4 linked regions of the Homo sapiens genome follow. The protein of the gene in region 4 interacts with the protein of the main gene of each other region in a biochemical or structural test. Each region holds a gene or a part of one and is shown on either strand. Other genes may lie near its edges.

Region 1 (4,669 bases), on a different chromosome or scaffold from region 4:
CTGTAATCTCAGCACTTTGGGAGGCCGAGGCAGGCAGATCACGAAGTCAAGAGATCAAGACCATCCTGGCCAACATGGTGAAACTCCATCTCTGCTAAAAATACAAAAATTAGCCGGGCGTGGTGGCGCGCGCCTGTAATCCCAGCTACTCAGGAGGCTGAGGCAGGAGAATTGCTTGAACTCTGGAGGCGGAAGTTGCATTGAGCCAAGATTGCACCACTGCACTCCAGCCTGGGTGACAGAGCGAGACTCCATCTCAAAAAAAAAAAAGAAAAAAAAGAGAAAAAAGAAAGAAAGAGAAGAAGCAGAGGAGAAGAGGGAAGAGGAGAAGAAACCAACTATTCTATAGAAACAAAATGAAATCTAAAATTCTATGCAAACTTTAAAAAATAACTTACCTAGTACAGCTGACTCCTGGTTCAATAGTGAGGAAATATTGGTTGGAGAATTCAGTGATAAAGAATCATGTGAATTGTAATAAGAGAAGAGGGATGTAGAGGATGTTGGCAACAGAGAAGAAGGAAAAACAGTTCCATCTTGCTTCTCAGGTAAATCAAGAGACATCTTAGAACTGGTACCACTTGGAGGCCATGATGAAAAATAAGGATTTTCCACTAAAGGTATGTAAGAATATACACCAAGAGCACTAGAGTCATGGTGCTTTACATTAGAGGCATTACGTATTTGGTGTTTAGAGTCATATGGCAGTGAATAATTCAGTTCTGCTGAAGAAACATGCATTACTTTTTGAGCCTGCATCTCTACAAAACAAGAATCATGTGGTTGAGATTCCAAATAAGAAAAGTTTTCCTTGCTGTCCACCTCCTTGGTTTCTCTCTGCTGTATCAATTCAAAAGGAGTTGATTTGGTCCGTGTTATTGGCACCTTTGAATTAAAATATCTTCCTGCTGCATTTACAGGTTTAGAATTAGAACATCCCTCAAACAAAAGAGAGCCCAAATCCAAACTTTGATGCTTCTGAAGAGGCTCCCCAACTATTGGAAATGCCTTTGTCTGCCATTTCATGGTTGTGTCAGCATTTTTGTCAAAACTGTAATTTAGCTCCAGAAAGTCAAAAGAAGTGCTTGATTTAGCAGGGTGCAAAACTAGCTCTTCTTTTGCACTTATTTCAGAAGTCCTAAAGTCAAAGGAAGAAGATTCTTTGATTTCCATTTTTGTCCTTTGTTGGTTCATCATTTTTGCTGCTTTTGTGGTACTAAAACAAAAAGAAAGCGTAATGATGACACCATACCCCAAACAGGCCGCTTCCTAGCATCACAATGATGTATAAGCATGAGATTCATCTCCCAGACACAATTAGTCAACATTTAGATATATAAAATTGTACTCACCTTTTTGGTAAATTAGGAGAATAAGAGTCTGCTTGGAGAGTGTGATTTTTCTCAGGAATACAATGCTTTGCTTGACTCTTTAAAAGAAATAAGTCAGAGGCTGGTTTTCAGTGAAGCAATGTCAATAAGATATTTTAATATTTAGAAGGCTGAAAAGTAATTTTTCAGGAAATAAAAAGATTTAAAATAATTCATGAAAGAGTTAGATTAGCTTCCAAAATATTGAACTCAGCAAGAACTCGTTCATATACTGAGATGGCCAGAATAAAGGATTAATAGTATTATAGAAACTAGAAAGGATTTGTGTATATCATCATCTTTTCAAATGTGGGAGTTTTAAAAATGTTCTTTGGTGGGTAACTTTAGTCTCAAAAACACTCTGCCTTTAGAAATTTCAGCATCTCAGCCCTTTACAGGTACTTATTAGGTCTCTGGACCTATTTCATCTTGTTCTACTCTTTTCCTCCTCACTATGCTCTAGGTATACTGGTTTTCTTGCCATTACTTTAGCATGCCAAACTTATTTCCAAGTCAAGGCTTTTACACTTACTATTCCCCCTGATTAATATATTTTTGCTCCAAATTTTGCATGGCTGGCTCCTTCTAAGTAATTAGATCTCTGCTTAACTGTCATCTGCATAAGGAAACCTTCCCTGACCACCCAACCTAAAATCACATTTCTTCCCCTGTCCAGCCATGCTCAATCTTCTTCTTTTTTAAGAGACAGGGCCTCGCTGTATTGCCCAGTCTGGCCTCAAACTTCTGGGCTCAAGCAGTCCTCCTACCTCAGCCTCCCAAGTAGCTGGGACACTACAGGTGTGTACCACAGTGCCTGGCCTCAATCTTTTTTTTTTTTTTTGAATTAAGTTAGGGTCTTATTCTGTTACCCAGGCTGGAGTGCAGTGGCACAAACATGGCTCACTGCGGTGTTGACCTCCTGGGTTCAAGTCCTCCTCTCACCTCAGCTTCCCAATCCTTATTTTTTATAGCAATTATCATATTATGAAATATGTTATTGTGGTTCATAGAATCTTAAAATATAATTGATTATAAAATATATCTTCATTTCAGAGATGTTAAAATCCATTTTGAACATCTCAGTTGATGCAGAAAAAGCGTTTGACAAAATTCATGTTAAAATCACTTAACAAAATAGGAATATAAGGAAATGTTCTCAACATGATAGAGGCCATATATGAAAACCCATAACTAACATCATATTCATACATGAAAGACTTAAACTTTCCCCTAAGATCAAAAACAAGACAAGAATGCCAACTTTTACCACTTCTATTCAACATAGTACTAAAGTTCTAGCCAAAGTAATTTTTTTAATTAATTTTGTTCTTAGGCAAGAAAAAAAAAAGCATTCAAATTGGAAAAAAAGGCTGCGCACAGTGGCTCACGCCTGTAATCCCAGCACTTTGGGAGGCCAAGGTGAGTGGATCCCTTGAGGTCAGGAGTTTGAAACCAGCCTGGCCAACATGGTGAAAGCCCGTCTCTATTAAAAATATAAAAATTAGCCGGGCATGTGGTGCACACCTGTAATCCCACCTATTCGGGAGGCTGAAGCAGGAGACTTGCTTGAGCCCAGGAGGCGGAGGTTGAAGTGAGCCGAGATCGTACCACTGCATTCCAGCCTGGGCGACAGAATAAGACCCTAACTTAATTCCATCTCAAAAAAAAAAAAAAAATTGGAAAAAAAGGAAGTAAAATTATCTCTAGTCTCAGATGACATGATTTTATATATGGGATTCCACAAAAAATCTGCTAGAGCTAATAAACAAATTCAAAGTTGCAGGATGTAAAATGAACACATAAAACGAGTTGCATTTCTATACATTAGCAATGAACAATCTGAAAAGAACATTAAGGAAACAGTTATATTTATAATGGCATCAAAAAGAATAAAATACTTAGGAATAGATTTAACCAAGGAGGCAAAAGACTTGTATACTGAAAACTACAAAGCTTTGCTGAAAGAAATTAAATAAGATATAAATAAATAGACATTCAAAGTGATCTACAAGTGCAATGCAATTCTTATCAAAAACCCAATGGCATTTTTACATAATTTGTTTAAAAAACAGACTAAAATTCATGGAATTTCAAGGGGCACTGAACAGTCAAAACAATCTTGAAAAAGAAGAGCAAAGTTGAATGACACACTACCTGATTTCAAAAATTGCAACAGAGCTACAGTAATTAAAACAGTGTGGTACTGACATAGTATAGACTAAAGACCAATGGAATAGAAGAGCTTTGAAAAAAACATTTACATATGGTGGGCAATTGATTTTTGACAAAAGTGCCAAGAAAATTCAATGGAGAAAGGAGAGTGTTTTCAATAAATGATTCTGGGAAAAACTGAATATACACATGCAAAAGAATGAAGTTGAGGCTGGGTGCGGTGGCTCATGCCTGTAATCCCAGCACTTTGGGAGGCTGAGGCGGGTGGATCACCTGAGGTCAGGAGTTTGAGACCAGCCTGACCAACATGGAGAAACCCCGTCTCTACTAAAAATACAAAATTAGCCAGGCATGGTGGCGCATGCCTGTAATCCCAGCTACTCAAGAGGCTGAGGCCGGAGAATCACTTGAACCAGGGAGGTGGAGGTTCCAGTGAGCCAAGATCACGCCATTGCACTCCACCCTGGGCAGCAAGAACGAAACTCCATCTCAAAGGAAAAAAAAAAAGAGAGAGAATGAAGTTGGACCCTTATCTTATGATACAGAAATTAACTCAAAAATTGATCAAATACCTAAACATAAGAAGTAAAATGTAAAACTCTTATAAGAAAATGGGCAAGCTTCATGACATTGGATTTGGCAACGATTTCTTGGATAGGACACCAAAGGCACAAACAACAAAAGAATAATAGGAAAATTGGACTTCATTGAGATTAAGACTTTTACACACCAAAGGACACAAAGGCAAAAAGGCAACCCATTGACTGAATGGAAGACGGTATTTGCAAATCACATATCTGATAAGGGATCAATATCCAGAATACATAGAGAACTCCTAAAACTCAACAACATGTAAACAACTCTTTTTTTTTTTTTTTTGGTGGAGGGGGACAGAGTCTTACTCTGTCACCCAGGCTAGAGTGCAGTGGTGCGATCTCGGCTCACTGCAGCCTCTGCCTCCTGGGGTCCAGCAATTCTCCTGCATTAGCCTCCCAAGTACCTGGGATTACAGGCACACGCCACCACACCCGGCTAATTTTTGTCTTTGTAGGAGAGACGGGATTTCACCATGTTGGCCAGGCTGATCTCAAACTCCTGACCTCAAGTGATCTGCCCGCCTCGGCCTC
Region 2 (4,669 bases), on a different chromosome or scaffold from region 4:
CAAAAAGCAGAGGTAGATGGTCATTCTGACACCTGCCCTGCCATGGTGTTCTCAGGCCTGGACACCCCAAGAACTGGGCAGCTGTCTCCCCTATCATCAGCAGAGCACTGCTCCTCTCCCCGTCAACCACCCTCCACCCCACCTTCCTAAATCCTAGCTGGAACCACAGAAGTGGCCAAAAAGGGAGGGAGCCAGGGTGAAATGCACTTCAAGAAGAGTAGTCTTTAAACTCAGAAGGCCTGGGGAAGATATTTACATTAGAACTGGGGAAGATATTTACATATAATTTTTACTTGCCAATTAAAGAAAAACAAACAGAACTGGAGAAGATACTAGAAACATCTATGACAAAAACGGTAACATTCTCAATACATAAAGAGCACTTGCAACTAATGAAGAAAAAGACAAACATGCTCCACCATGGGCAAATGAAAAAGTAATTCAGTAAGAATAAATACGAATAGGTGATAACAATGAAGTATCACAAATACTATTTGAACCTTAAGAAAGTGTTGGCTTGGCGCGGTGGCTCACGCCTGTAATCCCAGCACTTTGGGAGGCCAAGGCGGGTGGATCACGAAGTCAGGAGATCCAGACCATCCTGGCTAACATGGTGAAACCCCGTCTCTACTAAAAATACAAAAAATTAGCCTGGCGTGGTGGTGGACGCCTGTAGTCCCAGCTACTTGGGAGGCTGAGGCAGGAGAATGGCGTGAACCCGGGAGGCAGAGCTTGCAGTGAGCCGAGATCGCGCCACTCCACTCCAGCCTGGGCGACAGAATGAGACTCTGTCAAAAAGAAAAAAAAGAAAGAAAGTGTCAAAGATTTACAGGACAATGCTGTGTGTTAGCAGGATTATTAGAAAAATAAGCCCTCATACTTGGCTGACAGGAGGATAAAGTTGATACAGACTTCAAGAACAATTTGGGAAATGCAGCAACGCATTAAATCTGTCTATAACCTCTGACATAGCAATTCATCTTCTGGTATTTACCCAAAGGAAATAATTAAATATGTGGCCAAAGATGTAGTCACCAGAATATGCCTCACAGTGACTGTATAATTTAAGCACTGGATATAAATATAAACACTTATATAACCTAAATATTCATCAGTAGGGGGTTGAGTAAATTAATGATGGTGCATCCATATAAGAAAATATTACGCAGATATTTATAAAGGTGTTATAGAAGAATACTTACTGACATAAAAAATGACCCTGGATTTTTTTTTAATTAATTAATTGATGTTTTTGAGACTGAGTCTCATTCTGTCATCCAGGCTGGAGAGCAGTGGTGAGATCTCGGCTCACTGCAGCCTCCACCTCCTGGGTTCAAGCGATTCTTGTGCCTCTGCCCCTCAAGTAGCTGGGATTACAGGCACACACCACCATGCCTGGCTAATTTTTGTATTTTTCAGTAGAGACAGGGTTTCACCCTGTTGGCTGGCCTGGAACTCCTGGCCTCAAGCAATCCGCCCACCTCAGCCTCCCAAAGTGCTGGGATTACAGGCGTGAGCCACCACACCCGGCCCCCTGGTTTATTTTTCAGCAAATGTGCAAACATTTGGGAAAAAAAAAATCTATGATGGGATTACTTCTGGTGGAGAAATGGGGCTGGCCAGGTGCTATTTCTTGACCTGTTTGACCTGGGTGATATTACATAGTTATTCTCTTCACACACATATTTATTCTCAACCGTGGCATGATTACTATGTGGGCTGAATCACTCTGTGGTTGGTGTGGGGGACCTCCCCTTGCACTGTGGAATGTCTAGCAGCATCCTCAGCCTCTACCCTGTAGATAAACACCCTGTGCCCCCAACCCCTGTGGCAACAACCCAAAATGTCTCCAGACATTGGCAAATGTCATCTGAGGAAAAAACTGCCCCCAGTTGAGAACTACTGTATTAAATCATATATTTATATCTTCTGCACTTTCCTTGTATGTTAAATTTTATAACTAAAATTTTTAAGAAAAAAAATCTTGGAGGAAATGTGTCAAATTGTTAACAAGTTAATTCAAAGTGGCAGGATTTGGGGCTATTTTTTACTCTTGCCTCATGGCCTTTCTGTAGTTTGTCATTTTTAACAGCAAGTACATATTATGTTTATAAAAAGAAAACAGGCTAGGCGGGGTGGCTGACACCTGTAATCCAAGCACTTTGGGAGGCCAAGGTGGGTGGATTGACTGATGTCAGGAGTTTGAGACCAGCCTGGGCAACATGGTGAAACCCCATCTCTACTAAAAATAAAAATAAAAATTAGCCAGGCATGGTTGCAGGTGCCTGTAATCCCAGCTACTCGGGAGGCTGAGGCAGGAGAATCACTCGAACCTGGGAGGCGGCGGTTGCAATGAGCCGACAACGTGCCATTGCACTCCAGCCTGGGTAATAAGAGTGAAAGTCCATTTCAAAAAAAAAAAAGAAGGAAGGAATGAAGGAAGGAAGGAAGGAAGGAAGGAAGGAAGGAAGGAAGGAAGGAAAGAAGGAAGGAAGGAAAGAAGGAAGAGAAGAGAAAGCTCTTTTCTTTTTTTTTTTTTTTTTTTTGAGATGGAGTCTCACTCTGTCACCCAGGCTGGAGTGCAGTGGCTCAATCTTGGCTCACTGCAACCTCCGTCTCCTGGGTTCATGCCATTCTCCTGCCTCAGCCTCCCGAGTAGCTGGGACTACAGGCACCCACCACCACACCCGGCTAATTTTTTTTGTATTTTTAGTAGAGACAGGGTTTCACCATGTTAGCCAGGATTGTCTCGATCTCCTGACCTCATGATCCACCCGCCTTGGCCTCCCAAATTGCTGGGATTACAGGCGTGAGCCACCACGCCTGGCCGCTGTTTTCAATATTTTAAGTCATTTGTAATATGTAAACAGCTAGGTTCAGAGAGTCCGGGGCCTTCAGCCCACTTTCCCTACATAGGTGAGTTAAGAGTGTTCCCTGACGACAGGAATCCACCTCCAACTAGTTCTATAAGATCCCCCAACTCCTGCCCCAAATCTAGAGACCCCCAGGAGATCAAGAAGAGAAGAGGTGGGAGGGGGAGGCTGGAGGAGGAGACGCCCTGACAGGATGAGAGAGAGGGAAGTGTCAGTAATGACTTCTGGGTTCCTGGCTGATGACACAGGGCAGAAATTCACCAAGTGGGGACGCAGCAGATCTGGCCTTCAAGGAAATAAGATGTTTCAGCTTTAAAGCAGTAGGGATCTGGTTTTGTTCTTGTATGCATCCAAGCACCTAGAAAAGCACCAGGCACGTAGTAGGTACTCAGTAAATATTTGTTCAATGAACTAACTGCATGAATAGAGGGATATAAATAATCACATTAAGGAATGGAAAATGGGCAGGGCAGAAAAGAAGTACAGACAATTAAATGCTATAGGAAATTAAGCTGCTCGTTGACACAATCAGTCAAAAATATCTACTATGGCCCAGTTACTCATGGTAGTTTTAGTTAATGAATTAATTAATAGAAAAACAAAAGAATGAGAAGTATTCATTAGTAGCCTCTACTATTAATAGAGGTGCTTAGACAGGGAAGCCAAAAAATTGCCCTCAGAGTCCAGCCTCCCAGAGCTCATAGTCTATTTTGGGAGGCAGGTCCTGAAATTACATCCGAGACAGGGAACAACTGCAAGGAAAGTGGGGCCAGCCCAGCCCCATACATTTCAGGCTGCCTGTAGGAGCCAAACACACAGTGCAGGCTGGCTTCTCTGCAAGCAGGCCACTGTCCCATCTGTGCCATGAGGAGCTGGGCTCAGTGGTTCTCAACCCTGACTGCACATTCAAAACACCTGGAAATTTGACAGAAACAACACCTATGCCTGGGGCCCCACCGGAAGGGATCTGGCTTCAGAAAAGGCAGGCAGGGAGGTTGGCAGTGGTCTTTGGTGAAGCTCCCACACACAATGTTGACCTGCAGCCAGAGTTGAGTCCCCCCAGCCTACATGCTCTGTAAGTTCTGAACCTGGTTCTAACGGTTTCCCTCCTTAGGCATCAACTCAGCCCCAAACTCCCCAGTGAATGCTCCCGCAATGGGGAGCGCATTAATTTCACCTGCCATCACATCTCAGACCCATTTTTCCCAAGATGCGGTTCCAAAATAACCTGCATCGGGTATTTGTTAAGTGCTGATTCTTAGGTCACCTTCCAGACCTGCTGCATCGGAACCTCTACAGATGGGGACTCTGGAATCTGTTTCTCAAACACGTTCTACAAGTGATTCTCAGGAACAATCAAGTGAGCGGACCATGTCCCAGACTAAATGAAGCTCCCAGGCACACCTGGAGGATGGCTAGAGGCTGGGCCAGAAAGCGCACAAACACTAGAGAGCACCTACTTGTGCTCAGCACTGGGACAAACCAATGAACAAATAGGACAGGTCACTGCTCTCAAGGCACCTAAGCATGGAGCTGAGCACAGGCCAGTCAGGGCGAGGGTGCTAGCATCCCTAGCAAGGTGCTGCTGCTTGTCATCCAGAGAGGAGAGACTCTTGAGAGCCAGGGGGATCCAGGGTGTCCTCCTGGAGAAGGTGGCATTGCCCTGGGCTTTGAAATACAAATAGACTTGAAACGGTTGGAGATGTTACATTCTATTGTATGGTATTTCTGTTTTCCGAGGAGATCATCAGTGCAAATAAATAGTAAGGCATTACAAAGAAGGAATACAGAGATCT
Region 3 (4,669 bases), on a different chromosome or scaffold from region 4:
GATTGGCAAAGCTTTCTTGAATATTTATTAAAGCAGGTTCTCTAAGAAATTATCACAGACCTATGACAGCTTATTTTGCTATTAATCTCAGCAAATGTATTTCTTTAAAATAGCATTATATAATTGAGGGTTTCCCAGTTATTCAAATCTACTTAGTACAAATTAATGACATGTTGCTAGATATTAATTCTGAACCTCTATTTTGGCATGGTGTGAAAGTGTTATTTGTAGAACTGATATGGGCTGGAATCTGGCTGTTTCTTATTAGCTGCATGACCTTAAGCAAATTATTTAATTTCACTGACCCTCTGTTACTCTTACCTCCTGCCTGCTTGTATAGCAACAGCTCTGGGAGCTTGGGTAACTTAGATGCTTTTCAATTTAAAAAAACTCAGATAGCCCTTACCAGCATCCCTAGCTCAACTGAAAAGGGGCAAAGTCTTAAGGACCAGGTGTATTTTCCACCCCCTTCCTCCATTTCCAGGGCCAAAGAGCTTTGCCTCATCCTCAATAACTTTATATCCAGGGACAGCAAAACCACACTGGTCACACTGAGACTTGGCCACTCTTTCCTAACAGATCAGTGACAGTTTTAAAGCCCTGGTGTTTTTTACTCAGCTTTCTTGATTTATGAGACTTCTGGAGGCTGAATCATAGCAACTTACTTTTGACCTGTCTTTTCACTTTTTCACTGTATCAGCCTTCTCTCTTCTCAACCCCTAATTTTCTCTCTTTTTTTTTTAACAAGTTTGCTCATCTTTAAAAACAAAGACAATAATTCTTCCTTTGCAGGGTAGATTTTAATGAAATAGTTTATAATGCCTAGCATATAATAGGTGGTTAAGAAACTGTAACTACTGTTATTGCACTATATAGGATATTCTGAAAGTGAACTGTCAGCAAATGTGTGTGACAAGTAACTGAATCACTTGTGGCCTCAGCTTCCTCATTATACGGGAAATGAGTTATATGTTTGTACACTCTTGCCTGATTCTTTTTATCATTGAGATGAGCATTTGCAAGATAGATTGGGTAAGTGGTCTGTATACAGGCCTCTGAGCAAAGCTAAGACTCTCATAGGGATATAAAACTTCTTAGCTTATAGAGACTCTGCTCTTCTTCTGTATTATAACTACCAAAATTATCATTTAAACTCCAGGATCATCTTATAAGTGAAGTGAAATCTTTGATGATTTAAATGCTCATGGATGAAATATTATGAATGCTGAAAAGGCAGCATGGTAATTTTAGTATCACTCTTTTCTGCTTAGTTGGTGATAAAGACCATGTTTACATTTGGCCAAATATTTCACTGGATAATTTCTGAGAAACTACTGGTCAAAGTAATTCAAAAGTAAATAAACGTATTCAGTTCCTTAATTGCCTTAACTGACTAATTTAGACAAAGCTGGTTTCATAGAAAGGGATATTAAGTTTGAGTTAATAAATAATTCACTCTTTAAAGCTCCCAATTATCATCGCAATTAGTTAATATTACTGAGCACTCACTGAGATTGATAGCAACACAGTAGCTCCTCCTCGTGGATATTAATCTACCAACACCATAGCATTCAGAACTGTATTTGTATGAAAACCACACTACTGTTAATAGATTCATAATAATCTCTACAAATTGTCAAAAAATGGCTGTACATATCAGACGACAATTTGCTAAGATGCTTCGTGTAGGGTTTATATTTGTTTTAAGATGCTACTCAATCATTTTTCTTCCCAAATGAACAGTGATAATACACAAAATGATGCCAATACCAAGGAATTCTGGGTAAACATGCCAAATTTGATGACTCACCTAAAGAAAGTGTCTGAACAAAAACCCCAGGCTACATATTATAACGTTGACATGCTCAAATATCAGGTAAGCCTATTTACATGATCGGTATCTCTTCCACATGACATATTTGTTTTCTAAAGTACCTACTATTGAATAAAAGTAACTAAAGTAACACTTCTTTTAACAGTATTTAAAAGCTATAACTCATTTTTTTAAATGGAAACTTTAAAAGATAACTTGGGGACTACTGACAAAAATATTCATACATATTCTTATTAGTTTAAGCTTACAAGTAAAATATTTTATCACAAAATTAGAGAAATGTGCCACAAAAAAATGAAGTTGCAAAACATTATACTAATTAAGATTATAAGTTTATATTGATAAACAAGATGATTATAATTTTGTTAAGAACATTACTATACTAAAACCTCTTATTTTAAATGATTCAAGGTACACAATCTGCTTTTGTTTTTCTAGTAAGATAGTCCTATGAAAGAATTCTAATAAAATCTAACACTAAGAAATAGTTCAATAATAAAGGAATGTTTGATACTTACAATATATGAGAACTTTCTTTTTGTATCTAGAATTGCCCTTATCTCAAATTATTATTGATATACTAAATAAGCCTAATTCATACCAGGATCCTGATAGTGCCTGAGTCTCTCATTGGTTCCCAGCCACTTGACTGCCTAGATTTTTTTGGTTTTTTTTTTTTTTTTTGAGACAGAGTCTCACCCTATCACCCAGGCTGGAGTGCAGTGGCACAATCTTGGCTCACTGCAATGTCCACCTCCTGTGTTCAAGCGATTCTCCTGCCTCAGCCTCCTGAGTAGCTAGGAATACAGGCATGCACCACCAAGCCCTGCTAATTTTTTGTATTTTTAATAGAGACGGGATTTCACCCTGTTGGCTATGCTGGTCTGGAACTCCTGACCTCAGGTGATCCGCCCGCATCAGCCTCCTAAAGTGCTGGGATTACAGGCATGAGCCACCACACCAGCTGACTCCCTAGATTTTTTTAAACTTTTTTATTTTTTAAATTGACAGGTACAATTGTATGTCTGTATTAGGTACAACATGATATTTTGAATATATGTACGTTATGGAATGACTAAACTAACATACGTATTACCTCACATAGTTATTTTTGTGATGAGAACACTTTCCATTCACTTTAGCATTTTTCAGGAATACAGTATATGGTTATTACCTACAGTCACCACCTTATGCAATCAATCTCTTGAATTTATTCCTCTCATCTAACTGAAATTTTGTGTCTTTTGACCAACATCTCTCTAAACAAACCCCCACCCCACCCCACCACCACTACCTCAGCCTCTGGTAACCACCATTCTACTCTCTAATTCTATAAGATCAACTTTTATTTTTATGTTATTTTATTTTATTTTATTTTATTTTATTTAGTTTTTTGAGATGAAGTCTCCCTCTGTTGCCCAAGCTGGAGTGCAGTGGCACGATCTCGGCTAATAGCAACATCCACATCCTGGGTTCAAGCGATCCTCCTGCCTCAGCCTCCCAAGTAGCTGGGATTACAGGCATGCACCATCATCCTGGCTAATTTTTGTATTTTCGATAGAGACGGGGTTTCACCATGTTGGCCAGGCTGGTCTTGAACTCCCAGCCTCAGATGATCCCCGTTCCTTGGCCTCCCAAAGTGCCACTGTGCCCAGCCAAGATCAACTTTTAAATATTCCACATAAGAGTGAGATCGTGTGGGCCGGGCGCGGTGGCTCACGCCTGTAATCCCAGCACTTTGGGAGGCCGAGGCGGGTGGATCATGAGGTCAGGAGATCGAGACCATCCTGGCTAACAAGGTGAAACCCCGTCTCTACTAAAAATACAAAAAATTAGCCGGGCGCGGTGGCGGGCGCCTGTAGTCCCAGCTACTCGGGAGGCTGAGGCGGGAGAATGGCGTGAACCCGGGAGGCGGAGCTTGCAGTGAGCTGAGATTGCGCCACTGCAGTCCGCAGTCCGGCCTGGGCGACAGAGCGAGACTCCGTCTCAAAAAAAAAAAAAAAAAAAAAAAAAAAAAGAGTGAGATCGTGTGGTATTGGTCTTTCTGTGCCTGGCTCATTTCATTTACCACGTTTTTAATGCATTATAATTTTTTATTAAATATGTTCAGATTATTTTTCTTCAAATGAAGGAAGTTGTACTTTAATAAAAATCAGGACATCTCAAACTTGACTGTATTTCTCAATCAAATGCTGGTTCTGAATTGATGCTAAAAAGAAATATATGTGTATACATATTTAAATAATATAAATATTTATTTATAATATTTACATATACAACCTAGATACATATAAAACCTATACAATCTATAACATATAAAATAACACATTATATTCATAAATATAAATATTTATACAAATATTTTAAATATAAATATTTATACAAATATTTTAAATATAAATATTTATACAAATATTTTAAATATAAATATTTATACAAATAGTTTAAAATATTATATAAAATATGCAAATATATAAATATGATATATGTGAATATAATACGATATATTATATGTGAATATAATATGATATATGTGAATATAATATATAATATATGTGAATATATTATATGTGAATATAATATATTGCGTATTATATGTGAATATAATATATTGCGTATTATATGTGAATATAATATATTGCGTATTATATGTGAATATAATATATTGCGTATTATATGTGAATATAATATATTGCGTATTATATGTGAATATAATATATTGCGTATTATATGTGAATATAATATATTGCGTATTATATGTGAATATAATATATTGCGTATTATATGTGAATATAATATATTGCGTATTATATGTAAATATAGGTAGAGATCATT
Region 4 (5,122 bases):
TTAAAATCAAGGTGAAAGTTTTACAGTCCCTTGTATATGGGATATTTTCGATGCATATTAGCTATTAAATAGTACAAGAGGCCGAGCGCAGCCAGGGTGACAAGAGCAAGACTCCGTCTCATAAATAAATAAATAGTACAAGAGTATTTAAAATGCACACACACACAAAAAATACAGAAATGAAGTGCATCAAAACCTTTATTTTTGTGTAGAAGAACATCTCCATTAAGTGATTTTATTTCCTTTGTGTTTTTCTTTCCTTGCTGAATTTTCTGCATTAACAAGTATTACTTCTGTAACAAGAAGAAAAACTAAATATTTGAGAATAAAAAGTATTGCCTTGATTATGCTGGCTACTAACCGTGGTTAAATAGGTAATAATTACATGTTTTGTACTAGTGATTCCATCCACTCTCTGGTCTGTGTGAGGGGGCCCTCATCAGACTTGGAGAGAACTAGGTATAGTTGGGAAAGTTAATTATTGCATTTGTTTTTAATGGCATTTAACTTTTTATTTTTAAGACAGGGTCTCACTCTGTCACCCAGACTGGAGTGCAGTGGCACAATCATGGCTCACTGCAGCCTTGGCCTCCTGGACTCAAGAGATCCTCCTGCCTCAGCCTCCCAAATACCCGGGACCATGAGCATGTGCCACCATGCCTGGCTGATTTATTTTTTGTAAAGACAAGGTCTCACTATGTTGCTCAGGCTGGTCTTGAACTTCTGGATGCAAGCAATCCTCCTGCCTCAGCCTCCCAAAGCACTGGGATTACAGGTGTGAGCCACCACATCCAGCCTTAACTTATTTTTAAAACTTCAAATAACAACCAAGAAAAGGGCATACGATTTTATGTTCTTCAAAAATGGGGCATACTAGTTTTAAAAAGGCAAAGACATACTGCTGTAGGGTCAACTTTTTAAAAATGTGCTATGTCACAATTCAACTAGTGTCCAAGCCAGCTAGAGAATTTAAAGGACTTATTTATAGTCAGTTAAATCAGTGATGAAATAGGTAGGAATGGCCTTAAAACCAGAACAGGAGGAAACAACCTAATACAATTCAGCGTTGGGTTTTATGGAACGCAGAATTATAGATCACCCAAGTGCTGAACACGTGGAGTTACGTGTGTTAGAAACTTCTTCCTGGAAATTCAGCGACCCTTCTGAATGTCTTTATAAGAAAATCAGCTTTTTGCACCGCCCTCTCAACCCCACCCTCAGAATTTCTTATGCTGTACAACACAAAACTTCTCCTGTTCTCACAAAGACTTCGTACACAGAAATCTATTTCTGCTTGGTGTTAGCTAACATTTATCTGAAGCCGCAGGACAGCTGAAAGGGTTGTTGGTTGGTTTTGTTTTCTAGGTTTATTTCTGCACAATTTTCCTTGCACAGCTACAATCTTATCTGTGGGAAGAGGAAGAGACACCATTTGCAGGGCTGTTAGCTTCCTGTGCTCTCAGAAAAGAGTGAAGCAGAAAGAACCCAAAATAATCCACTATAACAGATTGGCTTTTCTCCTTTTATTCATGAACTATTTGAATTTAAACCACACAGGTCAAAATGACCAAAGAGTTGTTTTTTGTTTTTGTTTTTGTTTTTGAAGAGATTGTTCTTTTTAGGTTCAAGATACACAGGAAGAGCAATTTGTACTGATGTTGCTACTGGTTTAAAGAAAGGTCTCAGTTACCATCATCTTAATCGGTAAAATTTAACATTTCACACATAATAAGTTGCCAAAGGAACACTCAAACAGCAAAAACAAACCTCAGCTTCTTTCAAACAAAAAAGAAGAAACAATGTTTTGGCCCTGCTTCATCAAACCTTTAGACAAATACGTAAGTCTACAATTTATAATAGTGTCTAGTAATTCTTAGAATTCCATTAACATTACATATCAGACAATATAGTCTCTCTTTTATGGAAAATTAAACAGTACCATTATTTGGCAACAGAAGTATATTACAATCAACAGCACATCCATCAAGGGGCGGGCCTGGTCCTACCCCTGGGCAGGGCTGTGAGGGAAGCAACATGCCACCAGCACTGTGGCCCGCTTGTCACTGGAAGCACAAGGAGCTCACGTTCTGATGGATTACATTCTTTTCCAAACAGGCAAAGGCTATCTGGGAGGGTTCGCTAGCACTCCTGGGAAGGGAGGGCCCCATGTTCTAGCTTTTCTTGTCCCCAGACTTTTTTGAAACAACCAAGGCCCAAGGGACAGTTGACTGGCTGACTTGTTTCCACTCACAGCCCTCTTGCCACCCCAGCCAGAGGGCATCGTTCTAAGGAAGGAGAGTCAGGGCCTGTTTGGGGTTGGTAGACCAGAGCTCATCTCCTCTGCTGGCAGGCCTTAGGTGGCCTTCCAAGGCTGCGCCTGAACAAAGAAATCTCTGAACAGCTCCATCTTTGGGAATAAAGCCAGTTATGGACCACATGGACAGTGCCTCTAAGTGATTTGCAGATTATTCATGCACCTAAATAGATTCCAGGAAGCTTCCAGAAATCACAGCTTCCCATACTCCTGAAGTCAGCAGCTTTACTGGTTCGGGCCTCTCAAAAAAGGGGCTCCAGTTGCTGGTTGACAGCATTAAGATGCACGCAGCCTGTTCAAAGAAATGTTGAAAACCTAACACATTCTTCAGATGTCTTTTCAGACCACAGGCCCTCAACCTTCCACCAGCGGTGTCACCCCCAAACACAATGCATTCAGATCACCAGAAACCAGCTCTTTTTGTTACTGCAGTATTTCCAGGCTGCCAGGGGAGGCTGGACTCCTGGGGTTGCCCCCTCCTGAAATCATTTCTGAATGCCTTTCTCAGGGGTTTAGACATTGAGTTTCACAGAATCCTCCTTAGGTGGCCTAAGGGGCACTTCTGGTGGCCAAGTACAGAAAGTCTGTGCCCCAGAAGCAGCCTGGACTTCTGATCCTTTTCTGGGAATGCAGACGGGAGGAAGGCATCTTCCCCCTGGGGTCTCCATGGAAACATGGGCATCCAGAAGCCTGCCCCAAAACGGCTTAACTCAGAAACCCTAAACCATCCATCCACCCACCTGGCTATGCAACAGTTGAAGACAGTGAGGATGCATCAGGAAATTTCATGGAAAACGCAAACGCTAATTAGGGATAAACTGAATCAATCCAGATACAGAAGTAGAAAGGGCGACCTGGAAGTCAGAGAGTGGCCTCTCTAGTGGGATAGCTGCGTCAGCCCCAGATCCCTAACAAATCCACTAGAACCCAAGGAAGCCTGCGTGGCACATGGATCTGATGAAAAACAGGCTCCCTATCCTCTCATCCTTCCTGACACAAGTACCCTCTCAGATATGTGATCTGCAAAAATCCATTTTTAATGCAACACCAAGGTCCCATGCGAGGTCATAGCTACAGGATACTTTTCATTTGATCACGCCACCATCCATTACACTGAAATTTATCATATTTCCTGCAGGAAAAAAAATGACTCATTTGATTTCTAACATATACAACTTGGAATTTTTTTTTAATATAAGAAATTTAGTTGAGTTGAACCCAAGTAATCTCATTAAGCATTTTCTACTCTTGGAATAGGTTTTAAATTTTTTTCTATAGTTTTATGCACTTAAATTAGATTCCTAAAATACTCTCATATACATACAGAAAAATAATCTCTCAATGACAAATCACATTTTACAATAACAAGTTAAATATTTTTGACTACAGAATCTGTGTTAGTTTATGCAACATTTAACAGCATGGCCTCTTACATACCATATATACATTTAGTCATGGCCATTCCATAAACATACAGCAGAGATTTCATGAGGAACATGAAATGAATACAACCTTTTCCCTTTATATAGTGGGAGTTCGCCTTTTTCTTAGCTGGAAACAGCACAGAATGTAGAAAACCGGAAACTGAGCTGATTATCATCCACAGGACATTTTTGTTGCAGTTTCTCATCTGTACACATGTATTTACACATAAGTTCACCACCTATACGTGTGAGGGTACAAAGCTGATGGAGCTAAGGCAATACAACACGGGGTGGGCAGGGGCCAACTCCCCTATCTATGCAGGGCCACCAAGGGATAAGAAGGGTCATGGAGGGCACAGACTCCGGCTTGCGGGGCTACAGCAGATGAGATCTGAGGTTGATTTCACAGTTCAAAGATACTTGGGCTATTGGCCATGTAGGCTTTAAATGCATGTCTAAAATTAAGTAGCATTAACATAGATCTTGCTAAAATATCTACTTTCTGTCACAGTGAATGTTTAGCAGATGACATTTTAAGGATATTGATTTATAGAATGTACCTCAAATGTTCATTCATTAAAACTAATGCTGACACGCTATTAATGAAATGCCCCTGGAGAACACTTGCAGAACTTCCCGTAGTCCGGAAGATTGCATGACGCATGAAAACAAAGCCATAATTTGTTATGTCATTCAAGGTGACTCAATCAAATCCAGGTGAGATGAGTTTGCAATTTCTGTCAACATTTTTACTTAGCAAATATAATCCCAGACAGAATCAGGAAACATAGTGAGGATTATTGCTCAATGTATATGGAGATGGGGACCTACTTGCAAAAAGCAAATGGAACTGCAAACATTTTGGAGCGTCCAGCCCAGGAAAAGTAAAAGCTCGTGAAAGAAAGCAACAACAGGAAGCCCAGCTTCATGGTCAGCTGCCTCCCGGGGCCATGGTCTTCTAGAACTTGAGGCTACTTACACAGAGGGATCTTTTCTCTCCTACCATCCCCATACATGGGATCCTAAGGGGAGAGTCTAGCTGGGAGGTCGCAGCCTCTCCGAAGCAGGTTCCTCCCAGACACCCGCAGACCAGATCGTGTGGCCCAGCTGGGCAGGGAGGCACTGGCTCCGCAGACTCCCCTTCTCTCCAGGGGGTGAAGGCTGGAGGAGCAAGTGTCCAGCCACTGGGGAAGGGACACTGAGCACTTCTATGACCCTGCTTCTCTTTGAAGGCAGAAGGTTGGAAAAGGCTTGCTGTCCTCCCAGGAAAGGGGAGAAAAGCTCCCAGTGGATGCCCAAGGCCCAGAGGAAGGGTTTTATTTCCAAGCAGTGAGCTCAATGGTAAAGGCTCACAGCTGCTTGACGCCCTGTGGCCCATCCTGAA

What was found. Proteins that work in one complex are often made in the same cells at the same time.
Region 1: the proteins of ITSN1 (region 4) and PTPN22 interact in a surface display test, tested with the Homo sapiens proteins (one large-scale study listed by IntAct).
Region 2: the proteins of ITSN1 (region 4) and DYSF interact in a surface display test, tested with the Homo sapiens proteins (one large-scale study listed by IntAct).
Region 3: the proteins of ITSN1 (region 4) and SGIP1 form a complex in vitro, tested with the Homo sapiens proteins (one study listed by BioGRID).

Annotation. Positions count from the first base shown.
Region 1 is NC_000001.11:113,837,192-113,841,860, forward strand, and holds part of PTPN22 (tyrosine-protein phosphatase non-receptor type 22), read right to left. Parts: intron 1,453-4,669; coding exon of another isoform or gene 1,432-1,452; exon of another isoform or gene 1,430-1,431; coding exon 1,353-1,429; intron 1,217-1,352; coding exon 399-1,216; intron 1-398. UniProt on the Homo sapiens protein: Acts as a negative regulator of T-cell receptor (TCR) signaling by direct dephosphorylation of the Src family kinases LCK and FYN, ITAMs of the TCRz/CD3 complex, as well as ZAP70, VAV, VCP and other key signaling molecules.
Region 2 is NC_000002.12:71,468,551-71,473,219, reverse strand, and holds part of DYSF (dysferlin), read right to left. Parts: intron 1-4,669. UniProt on the Homo sapiens protein: Key calcium ion sensor involved in the Ca(2+)-triggered synaptic vesicle-plasma membrane fusion.
Region 3 is NC_000001.11:66,732,005-66,736,673, forward strand, and holds part of SGIP1 (SH3-containing GRB2-like protein 3-interacting protein 1), read left to right. Parts: intron 1-1,743; coding exon 1,744-1,876; intron 1,877-4,669.
Region 4 is NC_000021.9:33,896,248-33,901,369, reverse strand, and holds the end of ITSN1 (intersectin-1), read right to left. Parts: 3' UTR 1,509-5,122; downstream 1-1,508. UniProt on the Homo sapiens protein: Adapter protein that provides a link between the endocytic membrane traffic and the actin assembly machinery. Acts as a guanine nucleotide exchange factor (GEF) for CDC42, and thereby stimulates actin nucleation mediated by WASL and the ARP2/3 complex.